Linked DNA regions of Homo sapiens. The protein of the gene in region 1 purifies or fractionates together with the protein of each later gene. This does not show direct contact. Each region holds a gene or a part of one and is shown in the gene's direction. Other genes may lie near its edges. The genes, in order: G3BP1, PES1, STIP1, YBX1, STAU1, FXR1 and EIF3B.

Region 1 (3,500 bases):
GTTTTGAGACAGTGTTTCGCTCTTGTTGCCCGGGCTGGAGTGCAGTGGCGCCATCTCTGCTCACTACAACCTCTGCCTCCTGGGTTTAGGTGATTCTCCTGTCTCAGCCTCCTGAGTAGCTGGGATTACAGGTATCCACCACCACACCCGGCTAATTTTTGTATTTTTAGTAGAGATGGGGTTTCACCATGTTGGCCAAGCTAGTCTCGAACTACTGACTTCGGGTGATATGCCCTCCTCGGCCTCCCAAAGTGCTGGGATTACAGGCATGAGAGTACTTTATATATTCTGGATAGAGGTATTTTAAAAATTAGAGATATGGGTCAGGCGCAGTGGCTCACACCTGTAATCCCAGCACTTTGGGAGGCCGAGGCAGGTGGATCACTTGAGGCCAGGGGTTCGAGACCAGCCTGGGCAACATGGTGAACCCTCATCTCTACTAAAAATACAAAAATTAGTCGGGCGTGGTGGTGTGTGCTTGTAATCCCAGCTGCTTGAGAAACTGAGGCATGAGAATTGCTTGAACCTGGGAGGTGGAGGTTGCGGTGAGCGCCACTGCACTCCAGCCTGGGCGACAGTGGAAGATTCCTTCTAAAAAAAAAAAAATCAGTCAGTCAATCAATCAGGTAAATGCCTTGCAAATATTTACTCCTAATCTGTGGCTTGCCTGCGTGCCTTTTCATTCTTTTGATGGTGTCTTTGCAGGGCAGATGGTTTTAATTTTGAGGCAGTCTACGTGATCAATTCGCTTTCTTCTTCATTTGCTTTTGGTGTGTCTAAAATCTTTGCTTAGTGTCATGCAAGTTTTCTTTAGAAGTTCAGTTTTGGGTTTTACACTTTGATTACACTGAATCATTTTGAGTTAAATTTTGTATGTGGTGTGAGACATGAATTGAGGTTCTGGTTTTTTTTTGTTTTTTCCATATGATATCTAATTGTTTCAGTACCAGTTGTTGAAGAGAGTATACTTTTTCCACTGAATTGTCTTTGCACTTTTCTTGGAAATATAGTTGTCCATGTGGATATGTTAGTGAACTCCATTCTGTTTCATGGATCCATTTGTCTCTTTATGTCTAGCCTGTGTATCTATGTACGGTATCTGGTATTTGTGTATACTAAAAACACTTTTAAATATATGTAACGTTATCACACAGTACATATTTGGCAACTGATTTTTCTTTTTAATAATGTTTTTGAGTTATGTGCTCGCTTTCTGGCAGGCATAAATAGGGTGACATATGTCTTGGTTTGCCAGGGACAGTCCTGATTCACTTCAGTTAACCTGACACTATTAATAGTAGTTGTTTTCAATCTTAAAAGTGCTCTCATATGGTTGTCTTAGGTATAGAAGTTTCCCTAATGTGAATAAACCACAACTTAATATCCATTCCTTATTTGATGGACATGTAGATTGTTATCAATGTTATACTTTACAGATAGGGTGGCAGTTATTTGTTTTTGTCTTGTGTGAGTTTGTTTTGTCTTGGGTGAGTTTCTTTTGTATATGTACCTAGAAGAGAACTGCTAGATTTTCATCAGAGTGTTTTTGATTTTATTAGATAGTGCAAAATTGTTCTCCACTGTGGTTGTACCAGTTGAGACTTCATCTTCAGCAGTCCTGTAGGCTCTTTTTTTTACTTGGTTGCCAATGTTTGGTGTTGACTGAGATTTTAATACTTTGGCGCATCTCTTGTAAGGTATCTCCTGTGAGAAGTGATTTTATTAATTGCATTTTCCTGGTTACTTACTCTGTTTTGTTTGCTGTCCATTTAGTACTTTCCTGAGAATTGGCTGCTCCATTTCATTTGCCTGTTTTTCTCTTGGGTTACTCTTTTAGTGATTTGTATGCAGGTTTATATACATTCTACTAATCTTTTATTATATGATATTATATTTTCTTACTATAAAACTGGCACTGAAAATGGGCTATGAAGGCATTTGGCTACTTTTTATTTTGTTGGAGTGAGCTTTGCCATTAAAAATGCAGGTGGAGTATGGGCTGCCTTTATGTTTCCCTGCCCGTCTGTTAAAAATTGGAGGATAATGCTCATAGTTATTTCCCCCTCCGCCGCTAGCTGATGGAGTCTTGCTCATTCGCCTAGGCTGGAGTGCGGTGGTGCGATCTTGGCTCATTGCAAGAGCTCCGCCTCCCGGGTTCACTCTGTTCTCCTGCCTCAGCCTCCTGAGTTGCTGGGACTACAGGCGCCCACCACCATGCCTGGCCAGTTTTTTTGTATTTTTAGTAGAGACGGGGTTTTACCGCATTAGCCAGGATGGTCTCTATCTCCTGGCCTCATGATCGCCCACCTTGGCTTCCTAAAGTGCTGGGATTACAGGTGTGAGCCACCGCGCCTGGCTGATAATGCTCATAGTTCTTTAGACCCTTAACATTTTTCTGTTAACTTCAGCACAATTATTGATGGGGAGTTTCTTTGAAGTTGCTTTGCAATCTGGAAACTTGGGATCAAGTGGAAAATTTGAAAGTTAATGTAGTACAGTTGAACCATGAACAAACGTGGGTATGAACTGCTCAGGTCCACTTGAGCAGATTTTTTTCAATGAATATATTGGAAAATTTTTTTTGGAGATTTGTAACAATTTGAAAAAGCTCACAAACTGAATAGCCTAGAAATAATAAAAAAAATTAAGAAAAAGGTATTTCATGAATGCATAAAATATATGTGGATACTGTTATTTACTACTGTAAAATATACACAAGTCTATTACAGATTTATTACAGAGTTAAAATTTATCAAAATGAACCCACACAAACACTTTGAGACCATTCAGGGCACCATTTGCAGTCAAGAGAAATGTAAACAAATGTAAAGATACAGTATTAAGTTATAACTGCATAAAATGAACTTTAGTATATACTGTACTATAATTTTTTTCCTAGCCACCTCCTGTAAATATTGCAATGTGCTTGTGTTGCAAGTATCTGCTTACAACACTGTGTGATGCTAATCATCTTTATGTGAGCAGTTCTTCTCTCCAGTAAATTTGGATGCAGTAAAAAGTGATTTCTCTTCAATGAGTAGTTTTCATCATGTTTAGTACAATACTGAAAGCCTTGAATAACACCATGGGACCCATACGAAATATCACTAATGATGCTGAAAGCACTCCCAAGAAACAGAAAAGTTATGACATTACAAGGAAATATTAAATTGCTTGATCTGTACCATAGGTTGAGGTGTGCAGCTGTGGTTACCTGTCATTTCAGAGAGACGATTTGTCTTTTAAACAGACAGCATAAACATATACAATACTGAAAATGTATTTTGCAAATGATTTTCTTATTTTCTTTAGCTTTATTGTAAGAATACAGTATATAACCTACAAATAGTTAAATGATTGGTTATATTATTGGTAAAGCTTCTGATCACCAGTGTGCTATTAGTAGTTAAAATTTTGAGGAGTCAAGTTATACACAGATTTTCAACTCTGGGCTATCCATGCCCCTAATTCTCACCTTGTTGAAGGCTCAACTGTAGTTC
Region 2 (3,500 bases), on another chromosome or scaffold:
CCGTGTCTTCTCTGTGACCCATGCCTCTGTCCCTCAACAGGGCAGCCACACAGTGCCCAGGGTGGCTCATCCTTGTTGGCTTCGTCATTTACCAGAGGATTCCCCGAAACACATTCTGCTCTGGCTCTTCCTGGACCCAATTCCCTGGGTCTCATTGGTTCTGCCAACTAGACATGTCCAAGGGATGAGAGGCATGGAAGACATAACCTACGCTGGCGACCGGTGGCCAGGCCCAGTCATAAGTGCTGCTGAGGGGAAGCAGCCCCCACCCCGCTCCCTGCTCCACCAGGGCAGCTTCGGTTTCCCATTTTCCATTTTGGACCTCCCTGTAGAGTGTCTGTGCACTAAAGTTTCCACCTTCAAAGAGAGTCATAGAGCCCCTGACTCCGTCTACCGTCGTGCACCACAAAATCCGCACGTGGGTCAAGGCTGGGTCTTTGGTGAGCATTCGGTGTCTTGAGGACCCCCATCGGGACTTCTCTGGTCCTCAGAGCCTAGTGGGCGCATCCTGGTTAAGTGGTTCCTCCTAGGGGCTGTGGTCAGCTGTGGGGAAGCTGCTCCTGCCAGGTCAGGAGGTGGCAGTGGTGAGGCCTGGCTTGAGGAACGGGGCATCTGGGGTGGGATAAGGAGATCAGGGTCCCCCTTGGCACCCACGCTGAACAGGCCCCATGTGCTGCCTCACTGGCCATGCAGGTATCCCACGTTCATCGATGCCCTGCGGGACCTGGACGATGCCCTCTCCATGTGCTTCCTGTTTTCCACCTTCCCGCGGACTGGCAAGTGCCACGTGCAGACCATTCAGCTGTGCCGCCGGCTCACTGTGGAGTTCATGCACTACATTATCGCTGCCCGTGCCCTGCGCAAGGTGAGCCTGGGACTGCCCGGCTGGCATCCCACCCTGCCCCCTCTCCTGCCACCCCATGGTCTTCACCCAGATGTCTCCTCCTCTCCCCTAGGTCTTCCTGTCCATCAAAGGCATTTACTACCAGGCCGAGGTACTGGGGCAGCCCATCGTGTGGATCACTCCCTATGCCTTCTCCCATGACGTGAGTGTGCCTGTCGGGAGGGGACGGGCTTGTGCTGCCTCCTAGACAGATATGGATGTGGAGGAAGGGGGATTTTGCTGTCCATGGAGTTTAGCAAGTGCTGGGTTCCCAACTGTTGATGAGGGGTGAGGCGCGGCAGAATGTGCCACACAGCATCCTCATTAAGAGCGGGAGCCTAAGCTAGCCCTATGGCAGCACCTGCCAGCTGCGTGCCCTTGGACGTGTTCCTTTCACCTCTCTGTGCCTCAGTTAACAGTGTCTACACCCTTAACAGTGCCTGGTGCTTGGCCTTTTAGGGCCGAATAAACAGTGAGAACAGCTATCAGGGCCATACCCAGCCTGCATGCCCAGCACCATGTGGTGCCACCACGGGGACAGTGGCAGAGCCCTGCCCTCGAACCTACTGGGCTCCTCGTCCCTGCTTTGCTGCCGATAGCTGCCAGACCTTGGCCAAGTGGCCTTGCCTCCCTTCTCTGCTTCCCCCTTCCTGCCTCTCTGCCCCACAGGACTCGGGGACTGGGAGAGAAGGGGAACGGTGAGCACAGGAGAAGCACTTAGCATGTGGCACTGTTTCCTACATATATTGTTTTCTTTTTCTTTTAAAATAGAGATAGGGTCTCACTATATTACCCAGACTGGTCTGGAACTCCTGAGCTCAAGCAGTCCTCCAATCTCAGCCTCCCAAAGTGCTAGGATTATAGGCGTGAGCCACAGAGCCCAGCCTTTTTCTTTATCTCTTTGAAATCCTGGGAATTGTTGGCAGGGATCCACTGAGAGAAACCCTGGTTTTGCCCTCTCATGGAGCTTCTAGTGCCCCGCAGGTGGGCCAGGCTCTCCTGCCTCCCTGTGCTGGTGGCCTGCATTTAGCCCACCTTGCTTGATCATTGAGTGGGAACTGGTGCCTTCAGCGGAGAGCAGCCGCTGCCGGTCCAGTTAGCACAGTGGCTCTGCTGCCCAGATTATCAGGGGCTCCAGGGGGAGCTGGGACTCTAGGTGCCCTGGGCTGTTACTTATGATCCCTTGTGGGTGGGGTTGCAAGGACTGGAACCTACCCTGACTGGCTGTCTGGTGGTGAGGCTGTGGCCTGTTTGCGAGTGAGAGGCGGGCTTGGCCCTCAGCAGTCCCTGTTCCCTCTCCCCCTGGGGCACGTGTGGGTGGCCCTTCCTTCTTCCCTTCCCCAGCCCTCCTCTCCTCCTCCTTCCTTCCTGCCTTCCTCTTGGTCCTTCCTTCTCTCTGATGTCCTGCCCCCATGCTGCTCAGACTGGTCTTTGTGTGTCCTCCCTGGTGGTGAATAGGGCCCTGTGGTGGGCCGGCCTCCACACAGCTGGCCCTGGGGGAAGGGAGCCAGCCACGCATTCCCCTTTCCTCCTTGGCCAGTTCACTGCCGTTGCTTCCTCTCAGCGGATGGGGAGGACTGGCACTAGGTCGTAGCGGAGCCCAGTTGTGCCCCTCCTGTGAGCAGCCAGGGTTGGGTTCATAGCTGTGGAACTCAGGCTGGTTGTAGGGGCGGGGTCTCCCTGCTCAGTGCTGGGCTGTGGGAAATGGGGTTGGTCCCCAGATGTGCCTGTCAGGGGCCCTCACAGATTCTCATGGAAGGATGGCGGTGTGAGTGAGGGAACAGGCAGGGCTTCTCTTGGCCCTATGTGCTCTCACAGCACAGGTCACTGTCTGGCAGCAGAATAGCGGAACAGCTAAGAGTCATGGGCACACCCGGCACCCATGGTGATCACTACTGATTTTCACGTTGCTCGGAACATCCTGCCGCGTCCTGGGGGCCAAATGGGCTGGCTCGGCCTCCATGGTTTTAGGGGGCAGAACTGCTCAAGAGTTGTGATTCTGTCTGGGCCTCAGTTCTTTGCCCTGTTTTGCCCTATTAACTGCTCCAGGGCAAAGATGAGCCTTCTGTGTCCCCTGCTGCTGGGATGACAGCTCTGTGCCTTTTCCCTGAGCAAAAAGTAGTTTTGTCTGCTGGCCATTTCCCAAGAGCTCCCTGGGGGCTGAGCCAGGCCAGCTGCCAGCCTACCCTGGCCCCTCGGGTCATGCCTCTGGACCTGGCTTGGGCCCAAGGAGGGAGTCACTCAATTCTGAGTGTCCATCCCAAGGTTCAGAGGTGGGACTCAGTGGGCGGCCTGAGCCCCATGCTTCCCCCGCCCCCGCTGGGCCTGGCCTTCCCAAGGCACCTTAGTCAGCCAAGGTTTTGCCAGCCCCTCTGGGCTAGAGACAGCGCTGGGAGCACCACCCTCTGGTGCTCACACGCTAGCCCAGCAGCAGACATGCAGCAAAGATTGTAGACTAGGTGATGTAGAAGGCAGGAGCTCTGGCCAGGTCGGAAAGTGGTCTGTCCGAGTCTGAGCTAGACCTGAAGGAAGTGGGAGAGCCGGAGCAGGGAGGGGAGGGCCAGCCAGTCTTCGGAGCAGCAGGGACCAGGGTCCCTTTTCTCACTCTTTTATGGGG
Region 3 (3,500 bases), on another chromosome or scaffold:
GCCAATATGGTGAAACCCTGTCTCTATTAAAAATACAAAAATTAGCTGGATGTGGTGGCACGCGCCTGTAGTCCCGGCTACTTGGGAGGCTGAGGCAGGAGAATCGCTTGAACCCGGGAGGCGGACCTTGAAGTGAGCCGAGATTGCGCCACTGCACTCCAGACTGGGTAACAGCGAGACTCCGTCTCAAAAAAAAAAAATAAATAAATAAGCGGACATTGTGGTGCGCGCCTGTGGTCCCAGCTACGTGGGAGGCTGAGGCAGGACAATTGCTTGAACCTGGCTGGTCGAGGTTGCAGTGAGCCAAGATTGCGCCACTGCCCTCCAGCCTGAATGACAGCGAAACTGCATCTCCAAAAAAAAAAAGTTGGACAGATTTTGAATGTTCAGGCTTTTTTTTTTCAATAGGGGCCTTTCAAATCCCACAATGATACACTTCTTACATTTAACCCAACACAGGCGTACAGCCATGTAACACATTCAGCAAAACAGTATTTACTGTTATGTGCACTGTGTGCTGGTATTTTTTTGTCCCATTTGGTCTCTTAAAATGCTGGTCATGACCTACAAAATTGATTTCCTGACCCACTGTTGATCAGTACTCTGTTTGAAAAATGCTTTTCTAAAGCATAGGCAGGAACTTCACCAGCTGCCTCTTGACACCACTTGAGTTTTGTTAACTCTTCGTCTTCTGGCCTCCATCTTGGGCTCTAGGATTTTTTATCCCTTGTTTGCTTAATTTGGCAGGTTCCTTCTGCCCTTGCCTCTGTAAGGTCTCTGATTGATGGAAGTTCCTGATCTCTCTATTTGAGGATTCCAAAATCATTTCTCTCTTTTTTTTTTTTTTCCAAATAGAGTCTCACTCTGTCCTCCAGGTGAGAATGCAGTGGTGCAATCTCGGCTCACTGCAGCCTCCGACTCCCAGGTTCAGATGATTCTCCTGCCTCAGCCTGCTGAGTAGCTGGGACTACAGGCATGCACCACCACATCCGGGCAATTTATTTATTTATTTATTTTTTTGAGACTGAGTTTCGCTCTTGTTGCCCAGGCTGGAGTGCAATGACGCAATCTCAGCTTACTGCAACCTCCGCCTCCCAGGTTCTAGCAATTTTCCTGCCTCAGCCTCCCAAGTAGCTGGGATTACAGGCATGCACCACCACGCCCGGCTAATTTTTTTTGTATTTTTAGTAGAGACGGGGTTTCTCCATGTTGAGGCTGGTCTCGAACTCCTGACCTCAGGTGATCTGCCCACCTTGGCCTCCCAAAGTGCTGGGATTACAGGCGTGAGCCACTGCACCCGGCAGCAGCTAATTTTTGTATTTGTAGTAGAGACGGGGTTTCACCATGTTGGCCAGGCTGGTCTCGAACTCCTGACCTCAGTTAATCTACCCGCCTCAGCTTCCCAAAGTGCTGAGATTACAGCCTAAAATCATTTCTCTTGACAAAACTATTTCTTGCATCAATTTACTGGGTCGTGGGTGGATAATACATAGAATGAGTTAGTAACTTCGGTGACAACTCTATCTCACAGAACGTTTACCTCTTAAAAGTGTATTTTGGCCTGGTGTGGTGGTTCACCTTTGGGAGACTGAGGCAGGAGGGTTGCTTTAGGCCAAGAGTTTGAGACAAGCCTGGGCAATATGGTGAGACACCATTTCTACCACAAAAAGAAAAAAACATTTAGCCAGGCATGGTGACACACACTTGTAGTCCCAGCTACTTAAAAGGCTGAGTTGGCCGGGCGCAGTGGCTCATACCAGTAATCCCAGCACTTTGGGAGGCCAAGGCAGGCAGATCACCTGAGGCCAGGAGTTCAAGACCAGCCTGACCAACATGGAGAAACCCCGTCTCTACTAAAAATACAAAATTAGACGGATGTGGTAGTGCGTGTCTGTAATCCCAGCTACTCAGGAGGCTGAGGCAGGAGAATCGCTTGAACCTGGGAGGCAGAGGTTGTGGTGAGGCAAGATTGTGCTATTGCACTCCAGCCTGGGCAACCAGAGTGAAACTCTGTCTCAAAAAAAAAAAAAAAAAAGGGCTGAGTCAGGAGGATTGCTTGAGCCCAGGAGCTCAAGGTTACAGTCAGCTGTGATCATGCCACTGCACTCCAGGCTGGTAACAGAGTGAGATGCCATCTTTAAAAAAAAATAAATATGGCCAGGCGCGGTGGCTCACGCCTGTAATCCCAGCACTTTGGGAGGCTGAGATGGGTGGATTAAGAGGTCAGGAGTTCGAGACCAGCCTGGCCAACATGGTGAAACTCCATCTCTACTAAAAATACAAAAATTAGCTGGGCGTGGTGGCGGGTGACTGTAATCCCAGCTACTCAGGAGGCTGAGGCAGGAGAATCGCTTGAACCTAGGAGGCGGAGGTTGCCGTGAGGCAAGATTGTGCCACTACACTCCAGTCTGGGGACAGAGCAAGACTCTGTCTCAAAAAATAATAATAATAAATACAATGAGCTTCTCAAGGGGTTGCCTGCCCTCAGGTAGGCTGCTGTGGGGCACCTGACCTTTTGTGGGGCAGCTCAGTAAGGAGAAACCCTTTAGTGAGGACACTGTTCTGACAGGGCCAAGGCCTGCCTCACTTTTTTTTTTTTTTTAATGAAAAAGTAAAATTTAATGTGGAAAATGCAAACTTGGGGAGGGCAGAAAGATCACACACAAGGCTGTCACTTCACACTTGGAGGGTTGCACAGTGGCCCAACAGAGGCACACCTCACTTGCCAGACGGTGGGGCAGGTGGGCAGAGGTGCTCCTCTCTCCCCAGTCAGTTGGGTGGCCGGGCAGAGGCGCTCCTCACTTCCCAGTCGGTGGGGCGGCCAGGCAGAGCTGCCTCACTTTTTAAAACTGCTGTATCCCACCGGGCGCGGTGGCTCACACCTGTAATCCCAGCACTTTGGGAGGCCAAGGCGTGTGGATCACCTGAGGTCAGGAGTTTTAAGACCAGCCTGACCAATATGGTGAAACCCCGTCTCTACTAAAATTACAAAAATTAGCCAAGTGTGGGGGTGTGCGCCTGTAGTCCCAGCTACTTGGGAGGCTGAGGCAGGAGAATCGCTTGAACCTGGGAGGCGGAGGTTGCAGTGAGCCGAGATCGTGCCACTGCACTCCAGCCTGGGTGACAGAGTGAGACTCTGTCTCAAAAAACACAACAAAACAAAACCCCGCTGTATCCTTACTTCTTGCACTTTATATGTTTGAGAAGGGAGAGGTTTAAACCACAGTAGCATTTCTTCATCCTCCATCCCCTTTGTAATGTAATATTTAAGAATGGCAGGAATCAATTTGGGGAGCTAGCTTGACTGTTACCCATTAATGAACATTTATCTATCCTGTGGTGACATGTTGCCACACCAGGAAATGGAGACTGGTTCTTCCCTGATGGGAGGAGATGACAACTATGCCATAGGCAAGCATCTTGCCGCTCCCAAGAAAGAGAAGTCTCCGCTGCCATCCCACAGCCTTTGGGTCACTGGAGCATGTATCAGTGCCACTCCG
Region 4 (3,500 bases), on another chromosome or scaffold:
CCTTAAGTCGCTTTTACAGTTTACCTGTTCTGTTTTTTTAATTATCCTGTTCCCATCAATTAAAAATGTTCTTATAATAATCCAAGCTATAATTTACAGGTCAGATTTAAAGTTAATTTTATGTGGATCCTTTGATGCATATGTTGCCCCCAGTTCAGCAAGAAGCTAACAGTCAGTAAGCCAGTTTGTCCAGTTCATTGTAACCTTTGTTCCCTTTGTCATTAAACGCTAGAGCTACTACTGAGCTTTTTCTCACTCTGACCTGACGGAGTAAAGAGGGTGAGGCAGGCCACTGCAGGCCTGGAAATCCGTTTCCTTCTCCAGTGGTGATTCTTGCTCCTCGTGTTATCACCTTAATCCCAATATCCAGGCTAAAAAGTGAGATTATTCTCTACCCCCTCGCTTCTGACATCCAGTCATCCACAAAGTTTCTCATTTTGCCTCAAAAAGAGATCTCAAATGTCTTTTTATACATGGCTCCGTGGTCTAAACCTTCATCAGTCCTTGTCTGGACTTGTGGAGTAGCTTTTATAACTGGGCTTTTCTTACATTCAAACATACCTTATCACCCAAAGGTCACAGTTCCCATTAGGTTTCACTCTTTGCGTTATACATTCTGTTGGTGGGGAGGGGGGTTCTCATTTTTATGATCTCAAGGAAAGTTGGTAGTTGGGAGATGCAGGATAAGGTGAGAATGTAACTACTACTTCTGTTGGTAACCATGCTCTAGAGGTAAGAGGAGGGTGTGCTAGAACAGTTAATGTTTAATAGGATAAGGAGGGGCAGAATATATTTTGCTAGTCATTGCTACCCTCTTAATTATGGCTCAGTAGGTCACACTTTAATTTCTTAGACTTTTTTTTTTTTTTGCCTATCTTACGGGTAATGAGGCTACAACTGTTTGCAACTGCTGAAGTCTTGAAAGCAGAGAGCATGGTGGCTTGTGTTTTTTGATTTTTGCCAAATTTCCTGGTACCTAATTGGCAGCCAGAGAGTCTCTGGGAAAATTAATCTTTGACAACATGAGATTTATTTCATTTTCTAACTTGTTCAACTTGGTTCTGTCTTGCAGGAATGACACCAAGGAAGATGTATTTGTACACCAGGTGAGTGCTTGTGTAGATATTTGCACTTCTGATTCAAGGATTGTAAGAAGAAAAGGTTAGATATGTTCTCAGCTTTTGTTCCTTATAAAAGGTTAAGTCCAACCACCAGTTTATTTACTTACGACAGGAGTAGTAGCATGCTTAAAAATGTATACGTGGAAATGTGTTAGAGTTGACTTAATTATCCTAGACATTTCAAATTGGAATTTTGTCAACAGCTGTGGCTTTCTCAAATGTTGAGTCAAACTCACTGCATTAAATATTTATACCTAATTTCAGATGAACAGATTATTCCATGATTCTAAAGTTGAACAAATAATGTTGCTATAAATACACAGAAACTTTGGCAAGAAGTTTTCAAAGGCTTTTAGGTGTACCTGTAGGGACAAATCTCCATAATCAAGGGTAAATAAGACAGACCTGCAAAACATAGTAATTGAAGTGAGTACTTGAAAAGTAGCATAAAGAGCCTTCTGCTTACTTTAAATCACTTTGAATGGGTATTGGGTTTTTTTTTTTTTTAAACCTTTGGAGAGTTTTGGCTGGCTTGGAAAATGAAAAAATTTCACTAGTTTAAGGTTAAGTGGGGGGAAGTGTGACAAGGTTGGCAGCTGCTCATTAAATAATTTTTAGATTGGCTTCCAGTGATTTGGGAAGAGAAAACTGTTAACATAGGATGAGTACTGATGAGTACTGCATAGTGAACTTTCTCCCTAAGTATCATTTAGGGAAAATGTTTGCACATTCAGGAATTAAGATTATTACTAATGTAAACCACTGCCAAGTGTATGTTAATACTTCAAATTTAGATATGCTGTAGGCTACATTGAATGTACTTATCCTCACAGATACGAAATGAGTAGGAAAAAATATGTTTGTGCTATCAGTTTTCTCACTAAGGCTTTTGAAATATTGTCAACTTGTATTAAAATTAGAGACCATAACTACTTTTTTGTACTATAATCCAGAAATCAAAAGACCTAAAAGTTAATATCCATACTCACATTTAATTAGATACTAGCTTTTATGGCAGCATGTTTCATAGGAAGGGCTGTCATAGGTTGGTGCTTTGTAGCTCACTGAAGTGTCCTACACAGTATTTGATGACAAGGAGGAAGCTATATCAATTTCTAGTACACCCAAACCCAATCAGGTAGTTCAGGGTCAAATGTAATTATGGAATCATTTAAATTCTAAATGTAAATAAATACAGGACTACTTCAGACAAAATGTTGTTTTAAAGTAGATGTTTTATAAAATTGGTATTCTTGTTTGGAAGAACACAGCTCAACTGTTCCTTACTCCCCTTCTGCATGTTCAAAAGAATGTGTAGACTTAGGAACAAGAGACAGCAAAGTTTCTCGGTCTTGTTGCCTGTTGGCAACCCTTAAGGGTTGGGGTTGGGGCAGGGGTGGAGATGTTGATAAAAATAAAGAGTTGGGATTTTAATTATCCATAATTCTGCTATCCCCTATGACTGCAGGTAATTGATAGTTGGCTATATCTGAAAGGTATGAAAACTATGTGACAGTTTAGATGACAGATGAGATCAATTATTTGACTCAACTCACCCAGTTGTACTGATTCACAAGGTGCCACCAATATGCTTTCATTTTTTTGGAAGTGGTTTCAACATGTAGTTGTTTCTTGGGACTTTGGCTGCTCAGGTCTTAGTGGTGTATCAGGGAGACTGCAGTTCTGGGCAGCTTCACTTAATTGGCCTCAGATTCGTTGATTGTCCTGTCTCCTCTGCAATGGAAATGCATGAGTGATCCTGTAATGGATATAGCTGAGATTTGGAGTGAACATGGGATTTGGAGACCCAATACCTGGGTTTAGAAAGTCTCCTTACTAACTGTGTGACCTTGGGCAAGTCACCTAACTTTAAAGCCTGTTACATTATCTGTGTAATGGGATTAACAATACTTTCACATGTCCTGTCTCATAATGAGATTGAATAGATAGTAAGTGAAAGAATGTTGCAAAAAAATTTCATAGAAACGTGAGATGTTACTCTTCCTCCCTTCTCTTAACAGTCTGGAGAAAGTAGAAGCAACAAGTCTCTAATACAAGATTTATTGAATTCTGGGGAGGTGATAACTAACAATTCCATGCAGTCAGATCATATAAAGAATGACATAGTTAATACACATGAATTGCATTTCCACTGATGTATTATCAGATTGGAAGGGATTTTGGTTGACATTTGTAATTGAGTTTGATACGGTAACACAGGGGCAAAGTTGGTTTGGTCAGCTTTGAAGCATGCAAAACCAAACTCGCCTGTCATCTAAACTGACGCAGTGTGGGGCCACCTTCTCCTATTAAGTGCAGTCCTCAGGGGATAGATGGATATCCTCATTTGTTAAAAGTTATATATAATGCTTTTGCAAA
Region 5 (3,500 bases), on another chromosome or scaffold:
AATGTCACCTTATTTTTTAATTGGATATCAGCTCCAGGAAATATTCTTGATTTATTTGTTTAGCTTCAGTCTGAAAGCTTCTTTCCCCACCTTGGTGGGCTCTACCGTCTAGCATCTCTGCTCTTTCTGGTTAAATGCTTCCCGTCTTCCTGTGGGTGCAGAGTGCAGCTCAGCATTCACAGGTTAGTGCACTTTGTTAGATGCTCTTTGTGGGCAGGGGTGTGGGCAGGAGGGTGCATTAGGAGAAGGAGGCAGGCTCTGCCCAGGTGTCTGTCAGGGTGCCAGTGGTCAGGTGGGGCAGGGTTTTTCTGCCGATTGCCACAGTTATTGCTGACTGGACTTTGTGTAGATTTAGACAGCAGGAGCTAATTTTTCAGTGATCTGATTTATGCTCATGGCCTTTTTTTTTTCTTCTTCTTTTTTAAGACACCCATAAAGAAACCAGGGGATGGAAGAAAAGTAACCTTTTTTGAACCTGGCTCTGGGGATGAAAATGGGACTAGTAAGTGTGATCTTAATATCGTCTTCCTCTGAACGTGATTCTGGGATTTGCATGGGTCCTGAATAACAGCAGGAGCCCAGCCAGTGAGGTCCCGCATGCAAAGTGTCTTTATCATTCCCTGATTCCCTGCGCTGCCATGCGTGCCAAGGGGAGGGCCAGCGTGGGGTTTGATGGTGTCATTGCGTTTTTCCAGGCTGTGGATGTGGATTCGTGTTTACCGTGTATGTCCCTCCCAGGTAATAAAGAGGATGAGTTCAGGATGCCTTATCTAAGTCATCAGCAGCTGCCTGCTGGAATTCTTCCCATGGTGCCCGAGGTCGCCCAGGCTGTAGGAGTTAGTCAAGGACATCACACCAAAGATTTTACCAGGGCAGCTCCGAATCCTGCCAAGGCCACGGTAACTGCCATGATAGCCCGAGAGTTGTTGTATGGGGGCACCTCGCCCACAGCCGAGACCATTTTAAAGAATAACATCTCTTCAGGCCACGTACCCCATGGACCTCTCACGAGACCCTCTGAGCAACTGGACTATCTTTCCAGAGTCCAGGGATTCCAGGTAACTGTCTGGCCTGAGCTGTGATGGCTGTGCCTCAGGACAGTCATCTTTTGGCTTCTCTCAGAAAATGAACTTTGAACTTTGTACTTTTTTCTTAAATCAAGTTCTGTCCAGGGATGGGCTGGGGAGCAGTGATGGAAGGGTAGGAGGTATAGAAGTATTGTAAGCATATGTGGTAAGAGAAATATCTTTATCCTTTGGTAGTAAGATTTCAACATGCAAGCCAACCCTAAAAGCTTCTAACCACTAGCAGTGGTTGTAAATTTGGATTTCAAAGAACAGACTCATCGTGCTGACACTTTCTGTCTGGTAGGAAAGGATATGGCTTCTCCCAGTCTTGGGCTTCTGAGCAGACACCTAGGTTCCTGGAAGGTTCTGGGCTGACAGGGCAGGTGTTAGTATGGCCACAGTGGGGCTGAGTTGGAAAAAAGAGCTGGTGATCTTGCTTGTGGGGCCTGGAGCTGCAGCCCTCCAGCCCACTCATACTTGCTGTTCCCTACCTAGCCTCAGCTCTCTTTTCCCCCTTAGGTTGAATACAAAGACTTCCCCAAAAACAACAAGAACGAATTTGTATCTCTTATCAATTGCTCCTCTCAGCCACCTCTGATCAGCCATGGTATCGGCAAGGATGTGGAGTCCTGCCATGATATGGTACGTCACACCTTGGGTGAGGGATTGGGGTGTTGTGTGTTTATGTGGAGCCTGCCTTGGTTCAGCTTGTTACTAGCCTGAGGAAGATGGGAGAAAGATTGTCCCATAGACCTTGAGAGCAATGAATCGTTTGATAGTGTTCATATTTTTGAAGACTTTTTGTCATAGCTGATTGGATCGATTTCTCACTCTTGATCAGAACTCATCAGCTTTAGCCCACCTTTCCCTTCCTTTTCCCTGCTGGCCTGGAGGGGCAACTGGGATCCTGCAGCTCACCCAGAGACTGCACTCACTTCATCTCTCACCAGAACAAGGAATTGCAGGTCCACGTTCTGGCAGCTGTAAAAACCACTTGCTTTGGTCTTCTGTTCAGATGAAATTATTGTTATAAGAAAACTGAGAAAAGGAATTGATCAGATCAACAAATCTAAGTAAACTGTGATGTATTCACTTGATGGGATGTCATGCATGCATGAAATTAATGTCTCTGGGTGGGGTGTGGTGGCTCACACTAATCCCAGCACTGCGGGAGGCTGAGGCAGGCGGATCACCTGAGCTCAGGAGTTCAAGACCAGCCTGGCCAACGTGGTGAAACCCCATCTCTACTAAAAATACAAAAAAAAATTAGCCAGGTGTGGTGGTGGGTGCCTGTAATCCCAGCTACTTGGGAGGCCAAGGCAGGAGAATCGCTTGAACCCGGGAGGTGGAGGTTGCAGTGAGCCAAGATTGCACTACTGCACTCCAGCCTGGGCAGCTGGGTGAGACTGCGTTTCAAAACAAAACAGTGTCTCCGAAGATAATGTAATAAGAAGAAAAATACATGATAGGCCGGGTGTGGAGGCTCACACCTGTAATTCCAGCACTTTGGGAGGCCAAGGTGGAAGGATCGCTTGAGCCTAGGAGTTTGAGACCAGCCTGGGCAACTTAGTGAGACCCTGTCTCTATAGAAAGAAAAATACATGATAGATTTTTGTTAGAAAGCAGGATATAACATTTATACAGTCTGGTTACCACATGGTTAAAAATACTAGAAGGAAAAATATAACATTTTCAGAGGTTATGATTCAGTGAGGTAACTGAATATTTTTTAATTTGTATTTTAAATTAAAAATTCAAAGTTTTATTTAGTAGTACCAGAGTTGAAGAAGTTGCCACCTGTTTGCTGGGCAGCAGGAACTCTCTTGCCTGCCTGACCAGTGTATTATGCTGTGGTCCCAAGCGGTGGCTGTGGCTTTACCCTTCTTTCCATCCCCACTAGGCTGCGCTGAACATCTTAAAGTTGCTGTCTGAGTTGGACCAACAAAGTACAGAGATGCCAAGAACAGGAAACGGACCAATGTCTGTGTGAGTGCACTGATGAAGGGGAAGGCGCTGATGATGGGGAGGCTGCCCCTCGTTTGTGTTGAGTTTACACTATCTGCTGACTCAGCGGGGAAATATTTGCCTGAGTTACTTTCTGGCCCTTTTGCCTGAAAGTTTTCCAGATTCTCTGGGCAGAAAGCTCTACTTTTAAAAGACATTTTGAGGCTGGGAACAGCGGCTCACACCTGTAATCCCAGCACTTTGGGTGGCCAAGGCAGGTGGATCATGAGGTGTCAGGTGTTTAAGACCAGCCTGGCCAAGATGGTGAAACCCTGTCTCTACTAAAAATACAAAAATTAGCCAGGTGTGGTGGCAGGCACCTGTAATCCCAGCTACTTGGGAGGCCGAGGCAGAGAACTGCTTAAAACCTGGGAGGCGGAGGTTGCAGTGAGCCGACATAGCGCCACTGCACTCCAGCCTGGGCGACAG
Region 6 (3,500 bases), on another chromosome or scaffold:
CTGAAATGTACTAGTCTGAATTGAGACATGCTTTAAATGTAAAATACAAATTGGGTTTCAAAGCCTTAGAATTAAAAAAAAATGTGAAACACCTAAATTTTATTTTTTTTTTATTTTTGTTTTTTTTTTTTTTGAGCCAGAGTCTTGCTCTGTTGCCCAGGCTGGAGTGCAGTGGCACTATCTCGGGTCATTGCAACTTCCGCCTCCTGGGTTCACGTGATTCTCATGCCTGAGCCACCCGAGTAGCTGGGATTATAGCTGTGTGCCTCCACGCCCAGGCAATTTTTGTATTTTTAGTAGAGACAGGGTTTCACCATGTTGGCCGGCTGGTTTCGAACTCCTAACCTCAAATGTTCCACCTGGCTCAGCCTCCCAAAGTGCTGGGATTACAGGCGTGAGCCACTGCGCCGGGCCAATAATTTTTTACATTGATTACATGTTGGATAATATTTTAGGTATATTAGGTTAAATAATATTGAAATTAATATTATCTATTTCTTTTCATGCATTTTGTTTTATTTTGAGATGGAGTCTTGCTCTGTTGCCCAGACTGGAGTGCAGTGGCGCAATCTCAGCTCACTGCAACCTCTGCCTCCCGGGTTCAAGCAATTCTCCCGTCTCAGCCTCCTGAATAGCTGGGACTAAAGGTGCCAGCCACCACGCCCGGCTGATTTTTGTATTAGAGATGGGGTTTCACCATATTGGCCAGGCTGGTCCCAAACTGCTGACCTTATGATCTTCCTGCCTCAGCCTCCCAAAGTGCTGGGATTACAGGCATGAGCCACTACCTCCTTCTTTTAATCAAGATAATTTATGCTATCAGTGTATTTAACTTGCCTGCCATTCTCTATCTTCAGCGTTTTTTGCTGTCTATTTTGGGAAGATGAACAGAGGTCTCCATTAGTAAAATAGCTGATGAAGTTTATTATTGTTGGCAAAGGGATGCGCTCCCGTGTTGAGATTTCTTCAGATCAGGAGCCTCAGAGGCTCCTGAATTCCTTTCTTAATCTACATAATTAATCATAGGTAGCTGTTTTTGGTTCCCTTTTCATGTAACCTTTTTGTTTTTACAGTTTTTCAGGTTATTTTCAAGTCTTAAATTTTGTTGATATATGTACTTAGTTCATAGTAAGCCCTCAGTGTATATTTGTTGAATGATGTGTAATCTTAGTAACTGCTAACTTCATCATTTCTGATTTTGGTTCAAACTGAATTTAAATGATTTTTTTAAAGAAGTTATGTTTTGATCTTGGTCAAGTTCAGATATTGTCACAAAACTTTATGCATGCATAGAGGGAACTGTATAGAACTTAAACTCTGCAACGAGAAAGTCAGAATAGTTTTGTTCTTTTTTTTTTTTTTTTTTGAGTCTAGCTCTGTTGCCCAGGTTGGAGTGCAGTGGCACAATCTTGGCTCACTGCAACCTCTGCCTCTTAGGTTCAGGCGATTCTTGTGCCTCAGTAATTATTGTAGCTGAGATTACAGCCATGCACCACCACGCCCGGCTAATTTTGTATTTTTAGTAGAGATGGCGATTTGCCGTGTTGACTAGGCTGACCTTGAGCTCCTGATCTCAGGTGATCTGCCTGCCTCAGCCTCCCAAAGTGCTAGGATTACAGGTGTGAGCCACCATGCCCGGCCCAGAATAGTTTTGGGTGGCCATTTGGAACTGTTAACTTATTCCATTTCAAAGAGAACTGTTAGATAATACATACAAATGGGTGAACCTAACAAGCCAAGAACATTACTGGTATGTAAACAGTAGTAGTAGACACTTGTGTATTCTTAAAGAAATCTTCACATCCTCATTGTCCTTTTTCTTTTTTCAAACTCAGAACAGTTACATGCTCAATACTAATGAATGCTGAATGCTTGCCTTGAATAATTTTTTTTTCTTATTAGAGCTTACTCCATAATTGGCTGGGCGTGCTGGCTCTTGACTGTAATCCCAGCACTTTGGGAGGCTGAGGCGGGTGGATCACTTGAGGGCAGGAGTTCGAGACCAGCCCGGCCAACATGGTGAAACCATCTCCACTAAAAACACAAAAATTAGCAGGGCATGGTGGCTGGTGCCTGTAATCCCAGCTATTCTGGAGGCTGAGGCAGGAGAATCCCTTGAACCCAGGGTGGGGGTGTGTGTGGAGGTTGCAGTGAGCCAAGATCACGCCACTGCACTCCAGCCTGGGCAACAGAAACTCCATCTAAAAAAAAAAAAAAAAACTTGTAATAATTATTGTAATGTATAATGTAATTGGTAAATTTGCAGACTTTTTGAATTTGTGGAACAAGTATCTAGTGATTTGGAATAATTTTACTTTGTAGATTTAGTTGCGTAGATCTTTTTAAAAAGTATATTGTTTGAAGTTAAGACATTTTTTTGATTGCAGTAGCAGCCTTGACTATTTGGTACTTGTTGGAATCAAATTACAACTTAGATCTTTTAGTTGTGGTAAGCATCTTATAAGTTTATATCTTATAAATTTGAGATCCCTAGAGATGGAAAAATTAGAAGTGGGGAGTGGTGATGCACATACGTGCTGTATGGAAAACGTGTTGGCTGACAATAAGATATATTCTAATTCTTAAAAGTATACGTTTACATAGACACGTGTATAATTTTACACACACGTAAGTATGATATAAAAACTTAGTCTGTTGTATTTTTTTTTCCCCTGGTTGCTCTTCACCACCTGGGTCTCTCACCTCCGCCTCCATATTAGGTAACCTTTGTTTGTAGCACATATACGTGGTTCCATATATTTCACTATGCTCGTAGAATTGTATATAGGTACGCATTCAGTTACAAGTATAGGGTTTTTCAGTATTACTGTATAAAAATAGGATCATCCACATCTTAACTATTTTCATGTGGAGTATGATTTATTTTTTAAGGTTATATAATCATAACAATGTATTAAATTCAGCCATTCCCCAGTTAATAGACATACACTTTGTTTTCAGTTTTTTGTCGCTCCACATAACTATTTCCATTGGATAGATATCAAAGAATGGGATAGCTTGGTGAAAGGGAACCTTTAAAAAAACAAAAAACTGTAATAAATGTTGAAAGATTGCTTTCCAAAAAGGCTTCTGATGCTTCCTGTGTTCTCCATCAATAATAAATGGCAGCTTTTTCTTTTTATCTGGGCCAGAAGTTGGCTTTATGATCTTTAATTTTTGCCAGTCTGTTGGATGTAAAGGGATATCTCATTGGAACTTGATCCCAGTTGTGAATTTTAATGTTGTTTGCCATTTGAACTTGTTCTTTTAAGACTTGCCTTTGTTTGCCATTTGATTTTGTTTTTCTAAGAATTGCCTGTCTTTTGCCCATTTTTTTGTTGGGGTGTCCTTTGTCAGTTTTGAAAATCTTTCTGTATTATGGATATTAAGCCTCTGACCTGATGTAAGAGTGTCCACTCTCCCACCTATTTATTTAGGTTATTAATTTTGAGATAGGATCTCAAAATAAATAATACTGTGTCACCCAGGTTGCAGTGCAG
Region 7 (3,500 bases), on another chromosome or scaffold:
TGTGGATGTGGTCGAGATGAAAGGCAAGTTGTATTTTAGTCACTTTGAGGCGAATGGGGCCTACGTGCTGTTTTACTCTTGGCTTTAACACTTCCATGCGAGGGGTTGTCTGAGCAGCTGAGTCAGGACTGTGAGCCCTCACCATGAATAGTCATCTCCAGGTCACAGAACGTGTTTAGAGCCTGGGCAACATAGTGAGACCCTCTCTGTACAAAAAACAAATAAAAAAAATTAGCCAGGTGTGGTGGTGCGCACCGATAGTCCCAGCTGTTTGAGACGCTGAAGCGGGAGGATCACTTGAGCCCAGGAGCAGAGGTTGCAGTGAACTGAGATTGCGCCCCTGCACTCCAGCCTGGGTGACGGAGCAAGACCCTGTCTAAAAAAAAGAGAAAAGAGATTGAGCCTGTGTTCTTGTTTGGCTTTTTGTTTTGCCATGGAGAAAAGGAGGAAGGAAGGGTTAAAAATAGGTGAGAAAATGGGAAACATGGCCGCCCTTCCAGGCAGGGAGACCGGAGGTCAGGATCCCACTGTAGGTGCACACTGGGTGCGAGGGAAGCGGCATCCACAGCTGCTGACAATGTCGGGCTCCTGCGGTCCTGCTGTGGGTGTCCTGCTCTCAGGAAGGGAGCAGTTTCACGTAGGTCACTCCACACAAGTGGAAGCAGCTGTCTCTGAAACTCCAGGAATGTGCACCTTTCCTGCTGTTGCTTGCTCTCCCGTCCTTTTAATGAACTTTTACACGTCGGGGGATATTTCTCTGTGGTTGAATAGTGAACATTTTAACTGATCAAGAGCACTATGTTCTGAATTGACCAAAAAGGGAGGGGTCTGTTTTGTGCATTTTAGAAACCATCATAGCCTTTGCCTGGGAACCAAATGGAAGTAAGTTTGCTGTGCTGCACGGAGAGGCTCCGCGGATATCTGTGTCTTTCTACCACGTCAAAAACAACGGGAAGATTGAACTCATCAGTAAGTAACCTGGTCCCTTTCCTCTTCTGAGTAGGTCAGCACAGATGATGACCCAGTCGCTGCCCAACAGTGAGCATTTGACTGGCCTAGGACCACTGCTGGGCAGGCCGGGACTCGCCTATGAATGGGGTGTGGCCTCGGCTGATGGAAGTGAGCGATGGCCTGGAGGTGCCGCCTCCTTGCAGGGTGTCTCTCTGAGCCCCGTTGAGCCCTCACGTTTAAGCGAGTATTTCCAAGGCTTCCATTCTCTGCCATCATCTCAAGTGAAGCTTTTTCTCTTCTGGCTGTAGCTGCTGTCCCTGGGCTTGGGGTCACTTCCTGTGGACATACTCCTGCCAGTCCCCAGTCTGGGTCAGGTGCCTTTGACCAGGGTGCGCAGAGCTGTTGCACACAGCTGTACTCTGCCCCCGTGCACCCGGTTCCAGGGGTGCCACACTGCACCCACCTGGGGCTCGCTCCTCACAGTGGTGCGTGGGCCCTCGCCTGTCTCACGGCACCTGCTGCCTGTGCCCTCAGCTCCTCACTTCATCCTGGGGTCTCTGCTCAGCACAGAGCCCGGTGCCCGCGGGGATTGAATGAGCCATTGCTTGTTGCTTCATAGGCGTGGGGTGTGTGTGTGTGGTAGCCAGGAGGTGGCGATGGGCTGTGTTCCTCACACAGGACTCTGGCTGCCAGCTGCCCTCCTGCAGAGCCATGGGTTTGGCTCTGTACCAGGAAGGGGTTGGAATCTCCTGGCCGCACCTTTCGCAGCATGATTCTGTGAGGAGTTTAGTTTTCACTTTGCTAGAGCTTGGCAGGGTGCGTGGTGCCCTCAGTTGGCAGTGGATTACAAGATTGGCTGTTTCATTAATTCTGGTTGATAGAAACATATGGGCAATTGCAGACTGTCCAGAGACTTGTGTAAGTCTTCTAGGTCATAAAACATAGGCAAGCAGAGGCACCTTGTACCTTCCAAACATGCTGCGTGACACGCCTCTCCTGAGGTTTGGCATGGACGCTGGGGCCACCGCATGGGCTCCATCCCATGCCCGTGGCTGTTGGGGTTTTCGCTTGTGCAAGTCTGAGACCCCTGCCCCTGCCAGGGTGCACTGCCCTCCCACATCTCCTCCCCTCCTCCCCACGTCAGCCTGCCCCATGCCTCTTTTTTGGATGTACCACAGGCTGAGGGGAGAGAGGCCACAGGTTGTCAGCTCTGTTTGAGATGCAGGGAGCATATGCTCTGAGGGGGACTTGAGCCAGCCCCAGCTGGCCTTCACTTCTCACTGTTCCAGCGGCTCTGCCCGAGATCCATTCCGGAAGTAAGAGTTAGTACCTGCAAAGATGATGACTGTAGTCAGTTTCAACAAGCATACAGCTTATCCAAAGACGCCTTGTCGCTAGGAGAGTGGCTTTGGTCTTTTGGGGTCACACGTCTCTGACATCTCTCTGTTGGGGTCCCTGCAGCAGTGAACATTTGCTGTAAAGGGAATTCTTTGTCCAGTTACCTCAGGAAATAAGATAGTATTGTTTTGAAATACCCCTGTCGCATCTTCTTTTTTTTCCCATTTAAAGTATGGATCATGACTTAGGGGGTACTTGGCGATGGACTTTGTAAAATTGTTTTCCGAGGTGGTCCAGCATTACCAGCTCTGCCCTCATGGGCAGCATGAGCACGGCCAAGTCCTCCAGCCTTGGCTGCCCCGGCACTGTGGAAGCCCTCGCAGCTCGTGACAGGCGCGCTCTTTCCTTTCAGAGATGTTCGACAAGCAGCAGGCGAACACCATCTTCTGGAGCCCCCAAGGACAGTTCGTGGTGTTGGCGGGCCTGAGGAGGTAGGTGTCTGCGCTCTGAGCCTGTCCGCCCTGTGAGTAGCGCTCTGCTGTGGCAGAGACCCCTCAGGCGCCTGCACCCGGCTTCTTGGTAGAGAGAGTATTGTGCGCTGAAAGGGTTGCCCCAGTGTCAGTGGATAGGACTTCATTGAACCTCTGCAGACCCACGGTACTCCAGGACTCAGGCCAAGCCCGCACAGAGTGAAATAAGCGCTCCCAGATGCTTTCGTGAAGTGACCAGGCAGACCTGTCTGCGGGTTGTGGTTCTCTGTGGTTAAACAAGTGCCTTCCAGCCATCCAGTAACCTCCCCCCGGGGGTCAGTCCCTTGTCTTCTAGTGGGAAGGGTATTCGTTACACAGCTGTGAGGCTGCCTTACCTTTGTGGTTGGTGTCACGGTGTCGGTCTCAGCTGTGTTCCAGCAGTGTGTCGAAATCATGGAGAAGCTTCCAGCTTTCTGCTCTGAGTTAAAAGAATACCCTTTTGTTGCTGCTCTCCCTTGCTTCATTGTCCACACTTGCTACTGTATTTTTGGAGGCTTACTTAGCCTCAGATAACATTTCCAGTAAAAATAATATGATGGCAGTCATATGTAATACTCACTGCACACTCTGCATCTGTGATTTGGTAAGTCTCACAGCGGCCACCAGAGGCTGTTGCTGTGCTTGTTTCCATGTTAACGCCGAGGCTGGCTCCCTGGGGACCCCATGCCGCAGCACCTCTCA

Evidence for each region.
Region 2: the proteins of G3BP1 (region 1) and PES1 purify together in Homo sapiens (affinity purification with mass spectrometry; 2 studies listed by BioGRID and IntAct, with this or other methods). This does not show direct contact.
Region 3: the proteins of G3BP1 (region 1) and STIP1 purify together in Homo sapiens (affinity purification with mass spectrometry; 2 studies listed by BioGRID). This does not show direct contact.
Region 4: the proteins of G3BP1 (region 1) and YBX1 purify together in Homo sapiens (affinity purification with mass spectrometry; 3 studies listed by BioGRID and IntAct, with this or other methods). This does not show direct contact.
Region 5: the proteins of G3BP1 (region 1) and STAU1 purify together in Homo sapiens (affinity purification with mass spectrometry; 3 studies listed by BioGRID and IntAct, with this or other methods). This does not show direct contact.
Region 6: the proteins of G3BP1 (region 1) and FXR1 purify together in Homo sapiens (affinity purification with mass spectrometry; 3 studies listed by BioGRID and IntAct, with this or other methods). This does not show direct contact.
Region 7: the proteins of G3BP1 (region 1) and EIF3B purify together in Homo sapiens (affinity purification with mass spectrometry; 2 studies listed by BioGRID and IntAct, with this or other methods). This does not show direct contact.

The regions. Positions count from the first base shown.
Region 1 is NC_000005.10:151,778,454-151,781,953, forward strand, and holds part of G3BP1 (ras GTPase-activating protein-binding protein 1), read left to right. Parts: intron 1-3,500. UniProt on the Homo sapiens protein: Protein involved in various processes, such as stress granule formation and innate immunity. Plays an essential role in stress granule formation.
Region 2 is NC_000022.11:30,581,911-30,585,410, reverse strand, and holds part of PES1 (pescadillo homolog), read left to right. Parts: intron 1-693; coding exon 694-865; intron 866-956; coding exon 957-1,046; intron 1,047-3,500. UniProt on the Homo sapiens protein: Component of the PeBoW complex, which is required for maturation of 28S and 5.8S ribosomal RNAs and formation of the 60S ribosome.
Region 3 is NC_000011.10:64,189,171-64,192,670, forward strand, and holds part of STIP1 (stress-induced-phosphoprotein 1), read left to right. Parts: intron 1-3,500. UniProt on the Homo sapiens protein: Acts as a co-chaperone for HSP90AA1. Mediates the association of the molecular chaperones HSPA8/HSC70 and HSP90.
Region 4 is NC_000001.11:42,692,418-42,695,917, forward strand, and holds part of YBX1 (Y-box-binding protein 1), read left to right. Parts: intron 1-1,072; coding exon 1,073-1,106; intron 1,107-3,500. UniProt on the Homo sapiens protein: DNA- and RNA-binding protein involved in various processes, such as translational repression, RNA stabilization, mRNA splicing, DNA repair and transcription regulation.
Region 5 is NC_000020.11:49,115,335-49,118,834, reverse strand, and holds part of STAU1 (double-stranded RNA-binding protein Staufen homolog 1), read left to right. Parts: intron 1-426; coding exon 427-502; intron 503-738; coding exon 739-1,058; intron 1,059-1,586; coding exon 1,587-1,709; intron 1,710-2,967; coding exon 2,968-3,053; intron 3,054-3,500. UniProt on the Homo sapiens protein: Binds double-stranded RNA (regardless of the sequence) and tubulin.
Region 6 is NC_000003.12:180,919,170-180,922,669, forward strand, and holds part of FXR1 (RNA-binding protein FXR1), read left to right. Parts: intron 1-3,500. UniProt on the Homo sapiens protein: mRNA-binding protein that acts as a regulator of mRNAs translation and/or stability, and which is required for various processes, such as neurogenesis, muscle development and spermatogenesis.
Region 7 is NC_000007.14:2,371,827-2,375,326, forward strand, and holds part of EIF3B (eukaryotic translation initiation factor 3 subunit B), read left to right. Parts: coding exon 1-23; intron 24-846; coding exon 847-969; intron 970-2,701; coding exon 2,702-2,780; intron 2,781-3,500.